Regions from separate parts of the Homo sapiens genome. Here all the other regions are linked to region 1. The links come from fine-mapping of genetic effects on gene expression. A gene starts in region 1. Each other region holds a variant in brackets. All regions are shown on one strand. Distances are from middle to middle. Region 1 holds the start of FAM43A (family with sequence similarity 43 member A). Region 2 overlaps XXYLT1 (xyloside xylosyltransferase 1). Region 3 has its middle 91 kb from the start of LINC01972.

Region 1 (4,239 bases):
CCTCCTGGCGGGGTTTTCCCCTCTCAAATCTCCCCGCATCCCCACGCGCAACAGAGCCAAAAGTGCTGGGGCGGGAGCGGGGGCCGGGAGGTAGGGGAAAGCGGTCGGGGGAACGCTGGACCTGGGCTCCAAGTGTAGGTCTGGGCCCCAAATGCCCCATTTCCCCCTTCCTGGGGGCGGGCAAGGGACAGGGAGGTTGTCGGGACCACGGATGGGTAGCCACGGTGGAGCGCCGGCGACGCGCGGAGGAGCTCAGCCCGAGTGGGGCTCGTCTGCACTGGCGCCGTCGGCCTGGCGGGACGAGTCCCCGGCGGTGGCGGAGGTGGCGTCAGGGCCCCCGCCCTCGATGGAGCTCTCGCTGCCCGTGCTGTCGCCTGACAGCAGGCGCGTCACCCGCAAGTCGGCCTGCAGGGTGCGCACGTCGTTGCCGAAGCTGAGCTCGCCCAGGTCGCTAATAAGTTGCGACAGCTCAGCCTTCATGTCGGAGGCGCTGCCCAGCAGCAGAGGCGGCGGCCCGGCCCCCGGGCCCAGGGAGCCCCCGCCGCCTCCTAGCGCCTCCCCACGGCCATTCTCCAGAGTATCCAACAAGTCCCCGCACTCAAAGTGCATGGCGACCACTAGCGCACGCTGCGCCTCGGCCTCCTCCTCTGCTGGATCTCCCTCTGCCGCACGGTTCTCCTCCTCCTCCGGGCAGCCCTCGGGTTGCTCCTCTTCCTCTTCCTCCTGCAGCTCCTGCTCCAGCTGTTCGCCGAGCAGGTCCTCGGTGATGGAGCCAAGCTTGGGCGCGCTGCGGCTGCGCTCCACCGGCGGTTTATAGCAGCAGGGTCCGTGTAGGAGCAGCTTGCGCAGCGGCACTAGCGGGATGGTGTGTGCGCCCACCAGCTCCTGCTGCTGGTGACGCGCGTCGTCCCGCCGCTTGAGGCGTTTAAATTCCGCCAGCGCGTTGGCCGACGTCTGGTAGAGCAGCAGGGCCATGGCCTGCGCCTTTTCGGGCTTGGACACCAGCACGGCGTGGCAGCGCAGCATCACGGCCTTGTGCTTCAGCTCGTGCCGGTACACCCAGGCGAAGACCTTGGGCAGCCGCGCGTCGGCCACGCAGTAGGTGACGCGGTGCAGCAGGTAGAGGTGGCCCGGGCGGCGCAGCGCGCGCTCCTCGGCGTGCACCATGCGGATACCCTGCGCACTCACCGTCAGCTTCATCTTGGTGCCCTGACGGCCCGCCTCGCTCTTGCTCCAGATCTTGCCCACAGCAAGGTCGGTGCAGCCGTCGCCGCGCGCCTGGATGGTGGTGGCATTGCCCAGGTAGAGCACGGTGTAAGTTGGGTCCTCGCTAGTGATGTGCAGCTTCTTGCGCTTGGAGCGGAACATGCTGCCCACCCGGCTAAGCGCGCCTTCGGGGCACGCCCGCGCCAGCGAGCTGAGCGCCGAGTAGTGCAGGCTCACAGCGTAGCCCTTGGGCTTGGACGCCTGCCGCGGCGGCGCCTCGGCCAGCAGCTCGAACTTGTGCTTCTTCCACGGCAGCATCTCCGGAGGGCGCCCCGGCGCAGCTGGGCGGCGGCGGCGGCGGAGCGCCGGGTGCGAGGCCCGCTGAGCCACCGGCCCCTGCCAGGCTCGGCCCGGGCAAGATCGAAGAATAAAACTACTGGGAGCGGCCCTGTGGTAGGGAGTTGGGGGGAGGGGAGCAGAGAGAGTGCTTAGGAACCCCGCAGGAGGTGCGGGTAAATTCTCTAAAAAAGAAAATATTCAGCTTCGAGTGTGCAAAAAAGGTTGGTGCGGGGGAGACACGCGCGCACACAGAATTACCCCAGCCTGGGCAAGGGCGAGAGCAAAGAGTCTCAGGCAAGCAACAAAATGCAAGGGAGAAAGAACGAGCGTAGAGTGGAAAATGTCAGGAAAAAAGCTAGAAGCGCGCGTGCAAATAAAGAGAGCCCCAGCAACAGCACCCGGGATGGTGCAAGAATATGCAGGAACTCCTCGGCGAACGTGAGGTGGGTCCCCTAACACACACAACCCTCAGGACTGGGGCCAAAACCCGCGGAAACTCTACAGCGAGTGTGCCTAGGGGCCGGTGCTCCCCACCTCCGAGGGGTGCTGGAGATGGAAAGCCCCCCGTTTGGGCTGGTCTCAAGTCAGCAGCTCGCCCAAAGTGCGGTCGGATGCTGGGTCCGGCTGGCCGCGGCGGGCCCCGCGCAGCAGTCCCGCGGGGACTCACTGCATCTTCGCTCCGCCGGACGCCGGGGACTCGCGCTCGGCCCGCTCAGTGTCCGGGCTGGCCTGGCCGAGACGGCGCTGGGCTCCGAGAACAGGGGACGGGCATGGCCGGGTCCGGGAACCGCCGCTACCTCATTTCTTCCCTCCGAGGCGGTGTCCAGCTCCGCTCCCGGGCTCTCCACGGTCTGCTGCCCGCCTTTGCAGTGCGCCCTCTCCGGTGCTGCGAGCGGCGTCCGGCTCGCCTGCCTCACATCCTTGCCGTCCGGGAGGAAGATCTCGGGTAAATATAGGCCGGCGCGAACCATTCGCCGCGCGGGGACAGGGGAGGAGCAGAGAAGAGGATCTGTTTTGGGCTCCGACTCCGGGCGGATTCCTGGTTTCTTAAAGGGACCGCGTGACAGCCATTGGTCGAGGGAGCGGGGAGACCGGTCCAATCCTCCAATTACATCCCAAATTTACCAGCATCTCTTTTGTCTATGGAAATCACTGGGACCTGGGGTTACCCCGCAGCAAAAAGATTTGAATCCTGACACTCCACCCCCCAGGCTGAATTGCCACTCACTGAATACATGTATGTCTAGATCGAAACTTCTGAGGGAGGTGGCAGAAGATGAGATTACAGATTATAATTTCCTGTACAAAAAGTTTGGGAAAATAGTGGTTTCTTCCTTGTGTGACGGCTTTCTGAGAATGACTGGGTGCTGTTTAATATTATTTTCAGAATTGTATTCCATTAAAGAAAAGAGAGAGGCACAGAAAACACCAAGGCTTATCTCTCACTATCTTGAGCTCGTATTCACAGGTAAGCAGCAGACAGTGTAAAGTGAGGTGAGTGGTAACATGATTGGGGTGACTACTGTAGAATACCGTCAATGAATAAGGCTTTTCCCCGTCCGAACCCCGGCAAGACCCCCTCCTGCTGTCAGGCCTCAGGGTAGAGCAGTTTTCTGAGATACACACAATTTCTAATGCTCGTGTGTCGTTAGGACTTAGTTTACTTTGGCAAGCCGGTCATGCGGTTTCATTCTATCATTGACATATTTTGGATGAGAATTCCTAGTAAAAATTCAAATGACGTTTTTTATTTAAGTGACAAATAATGCCAGGCCACCCTCCAATGGGAGTGATAATTGCATCAGTATTGCTTTTATCATGTGCCAACTGGACAGTGTAGTTGTCTTCTGACCGGCTTGACCCTTAGCCAGTAACTCATTTCTGGGCCCTTGAAACAGCCTGCTTGCCTCTATGGTATGGTCAGTCAAAGCAAAAAGACGTATGGCTGGAGTGGGATCAATGTCCGAATGATCCTGCATCAAACTCCCAGCCTGGTCCTGGAGGAGGACAGTGATCCCTTCCCACCATCCCAGTCCCCTGGGGATCTTTGATGTCTCTGGCTTCCACGCCAGGTCTTCATGCCAGAGTCACTGCAACCATACCTGGAAATTCCCTTGGGATATTCCAACAAAATAAAACTGACCCCTGCCCACCCTCTACCTTTGCCAACTTTTAACCTTCCTTTGAAATCTAACTCAATTTTCTCAGAGTCGTTGATGCTGAGTTTCCATTTAAGTTACTTTGCTGAGTTTCCATTTAAGTTACTTTTCTGACTACCTTTTGGTGCCCGGCCCTGAGCTAGGAGCAGACGGGATTCCTGCCTCCTAGTCCAATGAAGGTTGTAAACTCTACCCAACTCTGGGTTTCCACTGGACTGTGGGTTCTCTGCAAGTACCCTGTATCCCCAATATGGTACAAATAGGCACTCAGTAACTAGAATTAATGAGCAAGATATGCATGTGGACAAGAAGACAGAGTGGGCTAAATGCTATGAGAAAGACTCAAAGCACTATGAGAAGCTGGAGGAAGAAAGCATTCATTGTGACTAGGAAAATCAGAAAAGGCTTCATGGAGGTGGTGACCTTTGAAAGATAAACAGAATTTATCCAAATAGGAAAAGACTGAAGGGCTTTATGGGTATAGAGGGTAGCAAAATTACAGAAGCATGAAAATGCATGCATAAGGCCAGGCGCG
Region 2 (4,239 bases), 430 kb before region 1:
GACAGAGGTTCAGGGAATGTGGGCAAAGCCGCGCTGCCTTCTACATCAAGTGCTGTTCATTTGGGTCATTAGGATTTCATGTCTGGTCCTGGTCTTCGTAATTAAACGTGTAAAGAGATGTCCTCCCAGCACTGTCATGAGCAGGAACTTTTTAGTAGAAATGTACTTGTTGATGACATGGTTGTATAATGTGATTGTGGGTGTAGGGGGACAGATGTGTTTCAAGTGCTAGAGAAATGACAATGATTTGGGTCTCATGGGACCCAGGCACAGGACCGTACACAGAGCAGGTGCTCAAAATGGCTTATTTAGTACATGGAGTGAAATGAAAAGAAGCTCAACGCAGGTGGAAGGTGATGCTCCGTGTCTCCCGGCTCTCCAGGCAGTAGTCATTCCTTGGCCCCTCAGATCCTCCATTTTGGGTGCAATGGTGTGGCTGTACTTTGTGGAGAAACAAATTTGGGCAGCTGAGTTCAGGGCTTCACGTGGAGGAGCGAGAAGGGGGCCACCCAATGCAGCTTTCCCTGGAAGCGTGTGGACTGGGGCACAGTTGTTGCAGGATGATTGGCTGCCACCATAAGTGGGCAAAATCATGGGCAGATCATCCTGCTTCCTTAATTGAATCTTGGAATGCATTCAGAATCTTCAACCCAGGGGTCTGGCACTCAAGGCGTTTGTGACCTGGCACTGACTCAGTACGCTCTAGCCAAATTGGGCACTCATGGCTCCCAGATGCTGTGCCAAGCTTTCACCTGCTTATCTTTGCTTGCACTGTTCCTGCCACCTGGAGGGACTTCTCTTCACCCATCTCTACCTTGAGAAATCCTCTCTGTCATTCATGGCCAACTCAGACACCCCTTCTTCATAGCATTCTTTGCCCGCCGGCCTCAGGAGCACCCTCTGGCACTATCAGAATGCCCAGGGCTCCTTTCCACCCTTTTCTCCTGGCCACAACCCTTTCTCCTGGCCACACCCCTTTCCGCCTCTTTGCCTGGTCCTGTGGGTGCTGTGCAGGCTCCCTCAGCCAAGCTCGGCATTCCCAGGCCTGGCTCCGAGTAGGTGTTTGTGGAATGAATGGCTAAAAAGTAAAGCAAAAAGCTCATGAAACAGAGGGGAAATCCAAAACTGATTAAAGAGAAAAAGGATTCTAACAAAAAAGACCGTGAGTGCTGGGTTCACACTGCCTGGGTTCAGGTCCTGGCTCCACTATTTAATAGCCCTGTGACCTTGGACAAACCAGTAAACCGCTTTGTGCCTCAGTTTCCCCCTATGTTAAGGATAAGCGTACTACCTAATCAGGGATGTTCTGAGAATTAAGATTCTTGAAAACATGTCAGCTTCTTGGAACGGTGCCTGCCTCGTAGTAAGTGTTAATATACGTTAGTGCACCACTCCCCTCCCAAGCTTTCCCAACTCCCTGGCTTGTCGAAGATAGTGTCAGAAACTGGCGTTTTTCCGAGCTCCCGCCAGATGTTCACCTCCGTTTCCATCCTGCAGTTGCGGCGAAATCAGTGGGAGATGTTTTCCTGAGGCGGCTCCATCCTTACTGTGGAAGGGAGAAAAGACGGGAAGGTCCACGGACCAAGGAGTGGCTCTTGCCAGGCTCTGTGCGAGGGCTCCTCATATGAAATGCTGTTTAATCTTCACACAGCCTCTGGGTATGGATTAATGTTCCTATCTGGGAGGAAGCTGAAGCTCAAAGAAGAGCAACAGCTTGCCTGGGATGGCACGGCGAGTGAGGGGCATGGCTGCAGTTGAAACCCAGATTGGATTTTGAAACCCATGTTCTCTTGACTGCTTCATCCAGCTGTTCCCACCACCTGGGGCTGGAGGCTGGGGGCTGCGTGTATGTGCGCACATGTGTGCATGCATGTGTGTGCATGCGTGTGGGTGTGTGTGCGTGTGTGCGCTGCTTCAGCTGTTCCCACCACCTGGGGCTGGGAGCTGCGTGTGTGCATGGGTGTGTGTGTGTGCATGCGCGCACTGCTTCAGCTGTTCCTACCACCCGGGGCTGGGAGCTGCGTGTGTGCATACGTGTGTGTGTGCACTGCTTCATCCAACTATTCCCACCACCCGGGGCTGGGAGCTGCGTGTGTGCATGGGGGTGTGTGTGTGCACATGTGTGCGTGTGTGTGCATGCGTGTGTGTGTGTGCGTGCGTGTGTGTGCACTGCTTCATCTAGCTGTTCCCACCTGGGGCTGGGGGCTCTGTGTGTGTGTGTGGGTGTGTGTGGGTGTGTGCATGTGTCCATGCGTGTGTGCATGTGTGTGGGTGTGCACATGCGTGTGGGTGTGCGTGCGTGTGTGTGCATGTGTGTGTGTGCGCGCACGTGCGCACGTGCAGTCCTTGCTGGGGTGGGTGGGCTCGATGGCCCTGCCCCGAGTTGCCTCAGAACTGAGCAGAGTGGATCAGTGTGGACAGATCTTCTGGGGCTTGCGAACCCCAAAGCATCAGCGAAACCCGTGTTTGCCCAGTGTTCAGCCATGGCAGC[C/T]CACAGAACCTGACCCGGATTCCAGTAGGCTTTTGCCCAGGTGTCGCTGAGATGTCAGCAAGCCTCAGTTTCCTAGTTCATGGGCCCTCCTGACGGCTAGAAATGGTCTCGTGGGTTTTAAGAATAATTATAACTATCTTGTCCTCACTTAAGCTGATTTGGTATATACCAATGTACTGATTGATATTAGCACCCGTCTCATTTGCACATTTCTGCAGCGATAGTAATGCCAAGTAAACTGTAGAAGAAATGAGTTCCTGAGGCATTTACAGGCAATCAGGATGTTCACTTTGCATGTAGAGCAGGCACGCGCTATTTGAATCAAGCTTCCACGATTGGGGCGAGCAAATGATCTTGTATTTACATATTTTTCCGAAGGCCACTTTACCTCAATTTTAAATCTTTAAGTTGAGTTCCTATTTTTGAAAATTCTGTTTTGTTGTAACTGAGGTAATCCAGCCTCAAGGCCCTGTGAAGACAGCTTATGTTAGAAGTCTGTCTGTTAATCTTACCACGTTGAAGACAGTGGAATTCTGTGAGAAAAGATAGGCTTCACGAGTCAGTACCAGTGGTAGATGGGTGGGCCAGTGATAGTATAATACTCGTTCAGCTTGGTCACAATCAGCGTGTCCTTTACCTGCTGCTTACAGACGTTCACAGTGACAGATGCTCCCGTCATGAGAGACACTGAGCACCATCAGACACCTGCCCCTGGAGCGCCATCCTAGCCAGAGAGATACACACAGGCCCAGCCCACTCAGCCCAGCCAGACCCTCTCCGCCACCTCCTTTCCCCTTGCTCCCCATCCAGCCTCTCTCCCCATCTCCCCTCTCTGCTATGGATTGAATGTGTTCCTCAGAAATTCATACGCTGAAGCCCTAACCACCACTCCCTCAGAATGTGACCTTATTTGGAATAGGGTCGTTGCAGATGTCATTTGTTAAGATGAGGTCCTCATGGTCGAGCCTAATCCAGTATGACTGGTGTTCTTATAAAAAGAGGAATTTGGGCACAGACACACACACACAGGGAGAACATCACGTAAAGGAGAAGTCAGATCACGGCTTTGCTTCTGCGTGCTAAGGAATAGCAAAGATTGCCAGCGAACCACCAGAAGCTAGGGGAGCGGCCTGGAACAGGCTCGGCCTCGCAGCCCTCAGAGGGATCCAGCCCTGCCGACCCATGATCTCAGACTTCTAGCCTCCAGGACTGCGGACAATCAGTGTCTGCTGTTTAAGCAAACCGGTTTGTACTTTGTCGTGGCAGCCCTAGAAAATAAATATCACCCTGCCCCCACCCACATACACATACCTCACACACACCACACACACACACCACACACCTCACCCACACACACGCACACATACACCACACACCACACACACACTTATACAACACACACAACACACCACACACACACTTATACACCACACACACGCACACATACACCACATACACTTATACACCACACACACACCACACACACTTATACACCACACACATGCACACATACAGCACACACACACACACCACACACACCACACACATGCACACATACAGCACACACACACATACACCACACACAACACACCACACACACTTATACATCACACACCACACACACACCACACACATGCACACATACAGCACACACACACATACACCACACAACACACCACATACATACACCACACACACACCACACACACGCACACGTACACCACGCACACATACACCACACACCATGC
Region 3 (4,239 bases), 170 kb before region 1:
GGCCTCAGAGGATGTCACAAGGAATGATACAGATTTCTCCTTGAGACAAGCCATCACTTGGGACAAAGCTTCTGCTCTAGACTGCTGTCTTAGCTCTTTTGCTCTCCAAGTTTTGGTCCAAGGTACGAATGATAATATCACATCTCTACTACGTGCTGTACAACTTTCGAGGTGGCTTATGCATGTAATGTCATTTAAACCCCACAGCAACCTCATGATGCAGGCATGAGTATCTTCACTTTGTGAAGAGGGAGCTGGGCTCACACTCGTCAAGCCCTTTGGCACTTTCCGTGCAGAGCCAGGCTCCTGCTGCAGACTTGACTCTCTGCAGTGCCGGAGCTTCCTCCTCCAGCCCACAGTGCCTCCGAACGCATCCTAGACATTGAGCATCTTGAGGGCTGAGGCCGTGTCTCACTCACCTCTGTAGCTCCCAGAGCCCAGAATTGTGAGGAATGCATCGCTCATTTATTTATTCATCCAAAATAAATATGTACTGAGCACTAATTAAGTTCCAGGACCTGTGCTGTAGGGTCATTAAATATTTGACAGATGAAAGAGGGGAGGGAGGGAGAAAAGGGGAAAACAGCCTAGGAGGCAGCTGGATGTACAGTGGGGCCCCAGGGCTGTATGGGAGGTGGGCAGTGCGGTGGGGCGGGAGGAGTCCTTGGCTGGGACTCACTCCCTGGCACACTGGCTTGCTGAATGTCTTTGCCTCTCCGGGCCTCATTTTTTACAGAACTTTCCAGTGCTCCTCAGGCGATTTTTTGACAAGTGATTTTGAAAGCTCCATTGACTGAGCAAATCATGTGGTCTGTCCATGCCTTTCACTTGTGTCGCCTTGCCATGGTTCGGATGAGTCCTGCTGAGAAGGAATTTCTTCCTGAGGAATGAATATCTTTTGAAGATTAATTCACACATGAAGTTTGCTTTTTATTATCTTTTTATTTATTTATTTATTTTTTTGAGGCAGGGTCTCACTCCTGTCACGCAGGCTGGAGTACAGTGGTGCAATCTCGGCCCACTGCAGCCTCAACTTCCCAGGGTCAGGTGATCCTCCCACCTCAGCCTCCTGAGTAGCTGGGACTACAGGTGCACACCACCATGCCCACCTAATTTTTGTGTTTTTTGTAGAGATGGGTTTTGCCATGTTTCCCAGGCTGGTCTTAAGCTCTTGGGTTCAAGTAATCTACCTGCCTTGGCCTCCCAAAGTGCTGGGATTACAGGCTTGAGCCACCATGCCTGGCTGAAGCTTGCTTTTTACATGGAGCACTTGCTGTATGCAAGACACGAATCCATCAAAAGTTGATTGACTGATTGGTGGGAGTAGTAGAAAAGAATTGGAACTCAAAATGTAAAATTCTGGGTGCTAGTCCTCACTCAGCAATAAGTTGCTGTGTGACTCTGAGCAAGTTACTTCTTTCTCTGGGCCTTAGAAATGGTGATAATTAAATCAGCTCGGTCAACGTCTGGAAGGGGGCAAGGGCTGTTGGCGTTTTTAAAAAGTTTCTTGGGCGATTCAGATGTGCAACCAGGATTGAGAACCACTCGTTTACATGTCTTTCTTCCTGTGTAACTGTTGAGGCTAGAAACCGGGAGTCCAAGGCTTCAAGACTCCCAGCACAAATGTCTGAACTATAGGAAATATGAGAAATGGGTTTGTTATTGTTATTACTAATAAAATAATCATGGAGGAAGATAAACAGCAAATGGAAGATGATATAGTTTGCATATTTTTGTCTCCAAATTTCATGTTGAAATTTGATCCCCGTTGTTGAAGATGGGGCCTACTGGGAGGTGTGATGGGGGCGGATCCCTCATGAAAGGCTTGGTGCCATCCTTCTGGTAATGTGTGGGTTCTTGCTCTATTCGTTTCCAAAAGAAGTGATTGTTAGGAAATGCCTGGCACCTGCCTCCTCTGTCTTTTTCCTCCTCTCTTGCCATGTGGAGCCTGCACCCCTTTGCCTTCCCCCATAAGTGGAAGCAGCCTGAGGCCTCACCAGATGCAG[A/C]TGCTGGCGCCATGCTTCTTGTACAGCCTGCAGAACCATGGTCCAAATAAACCTCTTTCTGTTGTAAATTACCTAGCCTCAGGTATTCCTTTATAGCAACACAAATGGACTCATACAGTAGGTTTAGGAGAAGAAAGAGGAGGAAGAGAAGAATCAGCAACCCACACAGAATATTCCAACATTGGAGGAATCATTACTATCTTCATCTAATCTCTCGACTTCAGTTTCCCAACTGTTAAAAAAAAAAAGGAGACTATCTAATTCCTAGTAAATGGGCTCCATAAATAAATAGCCTCGATTTGTAGCATCTGCACATTACCCTGGTGTAAATACTCCCACCATGGTTGACTTTCACTTATGAATGGTTTGACAATGGCTCAAAAGAACCCTGGATCCTTAGGAACGGCTTTCCTAAACCTGCGCTGGCCAGCTCCAGCAGAGCAGAATAGGGGAATCAGTGAGTTAAACATATACCAAGTGCTTGGGACAGTGCCGGCCTCATAGGAAGCACTCAATAAATACGAGTTGTTACCATTATCATTATGGGTATTAATAATGTTTTCATTATGGTTATCGATAATGTTATTAATGGTTATTAGTCATGTTATTTTCTTTCATCTTATTTTGCTAATAGAACTCTTTGTGTCTAACAGGACCAGAGAAGCCGAAAGATAGGATTTTTTTTCAGTGAAAGGATTTTTTTTCAGTGTTTCAAGTAGAAACTGGGTAGCTCCTGACACCTAGGCAGACTTCTTATGCAATCTGCTTTATAACCAGGGTCATTTAACAGAAAGAGATTACATTTATGATAGTTCAGAGTTTATGAAGCACTGCCATGGCTTTTTGCTTTTTCTCCTCGTTTGATACCTGCAACAATTCAATGAGATAGGCAGGAATCCTCATGTTGCAGAAAAAAAAATAAGGTTCAGAGAGATTGTAACTTATCAGGATCACAGGGCTTCTGCCAGTGGCAGAGCTGGTTCTCAAAAAAGTCCAGTGGGGCTGGGTGCAGTGGCTCACACCTGTAATCCCAGCACTTTGGGAGGCCAAGGAGGGTGGATCACAAGGTCAGGAGATTGAGACCATCCTGGCTAACACAGTGAAACCCCGTCTCTACTAAAAATACAAAAAATTAGCCGGGCGTGGTGGCATGCACCTGTAGTCCCAGCTACTTGGTAGGCTGAGGCAGGAGAATTGCTTGAACCAGGGAGGCGGAGGTTGCAGTGAGCCAAGATCGTGCCACTGCACTCCAGCCTGGCGACAGAGCGAGACTCCATCTCACAAAAAAAAAAAAAAAAAAAAAAAAGCCCAGTGTTCTCCCCATCTATTTTAGCTCCAACTTAATTTCCAAGAGGCATTTATGTGGGACACACAATTTCCCTGACCAGGGACCCCACCAGACATGGAGAGAGAGGGAGAGAAGAAATGAGGCAGGCGATGACCTCATTTACTCTAAACAAAAGCCCTGAACACTCACTGCATGCAGGATCTTAAAATAAATATAGTTAATTCGGCCTAAATACCTTCAGTGAACATTTTCAGGGAAGGGATCTCCAGAGGGAAAACTTACTAATTCATGATAAGGTTAAAGTGGACCCATCTCTCGCTTTTAGTGTGAGCTTGAGTTACTACGATAATTAGGTTTGGCAGTGAGGGTATTAAGCTGTGTAGTGCAAGAAGTCCTGTTATTTGTAAAACACCAAGTGCGGTTTAATGGAATGCGTATGTGTGAGTGCATATTCAGGACAGGCTGGGGAAGACTCCAGCGACACTATGGAGCTGAGAGTCTGTGAAGTTGGGTAGCTACCAGGCCTCCCCAAATGTAGTTCTTGGGCTGAAAGTCTCTCCTTACTGAAGAGGCAATGGTTCCATCTCTAAGGAATGCAACACACTCCGTCTTGTGTTCTGCGGATTAGCAAGAAGGGGTGTCTGGAGAAGATGCACACGCGTTATCTTTATGATGTTTTCAATATGCCATTGATCCTGCAATGCATCACATGCCTAGAGTGGGCTCCCTCAGATGGGAGGGGGGTTGATTCTCCTACCTTTCCTTCCCAGTCCTCTGGTAACTTAGGTTGGGTGCTTGGGAGAGGACTCAGAAGGCACATGAGGCTTTTGGTGGCTGTGAACAGCCATGCGGTGCAAAGGGCCCACAAGGAGAACGGGGGGCAGGGCCTCTCAGTCCTGCTAGGCTAATCACTTGAGGGGTTACCCCAGATTTTTGTTTTGAGGG

The links. PIP is the estimated chance that this variant, and not a neighbour inherited with it, causes the effect. A credible set is the group of variants that fine-mapping cannot tell apart.
Region 2: its variant is the best candidate, but not a certain one, in a credible set for the expression of FAM43A in whole blood (INTERVAL, PIP 0.54).
Region 3: its variant is the best candidate, but not a certain one, in a credible set for the expression of FAM43A in whole blood (INTERVAL, PIP 0.73).

What each region holds. Positions count from the first base shown.
Region 1 is chr3:194,684,112-194,688,350 of GRCh38, reverse strand. FAM43A (family with sequence similarity 43 member A) reads right to left here and starts at 2,468. Exons shown (of 1, transcript NM_153690.5): 1 at 1-2,468. The coding sequence starts at 1,524. The coding sequence ends at 253. LOC124909474 reads left to right here and starts at 1,442. Exons shown (of 3, transcript XM_047449428.1): 1 at 1,442-2,491; 2 at 2,933-3,013. The coding sequence starts at 2,098. RefSeq lists silencers at 319-618, 1,449-1,638 and enhancers at 618-1,121, 1,122-1,627, 2,379-2,738.
Region 2 is chr3:195,110,498-195,114,736 of GRCh38, reverse strand. All of the region lies in intron 3 of XXYLT1 (xyloside xylosyltransferase 1), which reads left to right. Among named protein-coding and RNA genes, the nearest start is that of XXYLT1-AS1, 18 kb to the right of the region's middle. The variant C/T (reference allele first, on the strand shown) is at 2,492.
Region 3 is chr3:194,857,140-194,861,378 of GRCh38, reverse strand. No RefSeq gene overlaps it. Among named protein-coding and RNA genes, the nearest start is that of LINC01972, 91 kb to the right of the region's middle. The variant A/C (reference allele first, on the strand shown) is at 2,007.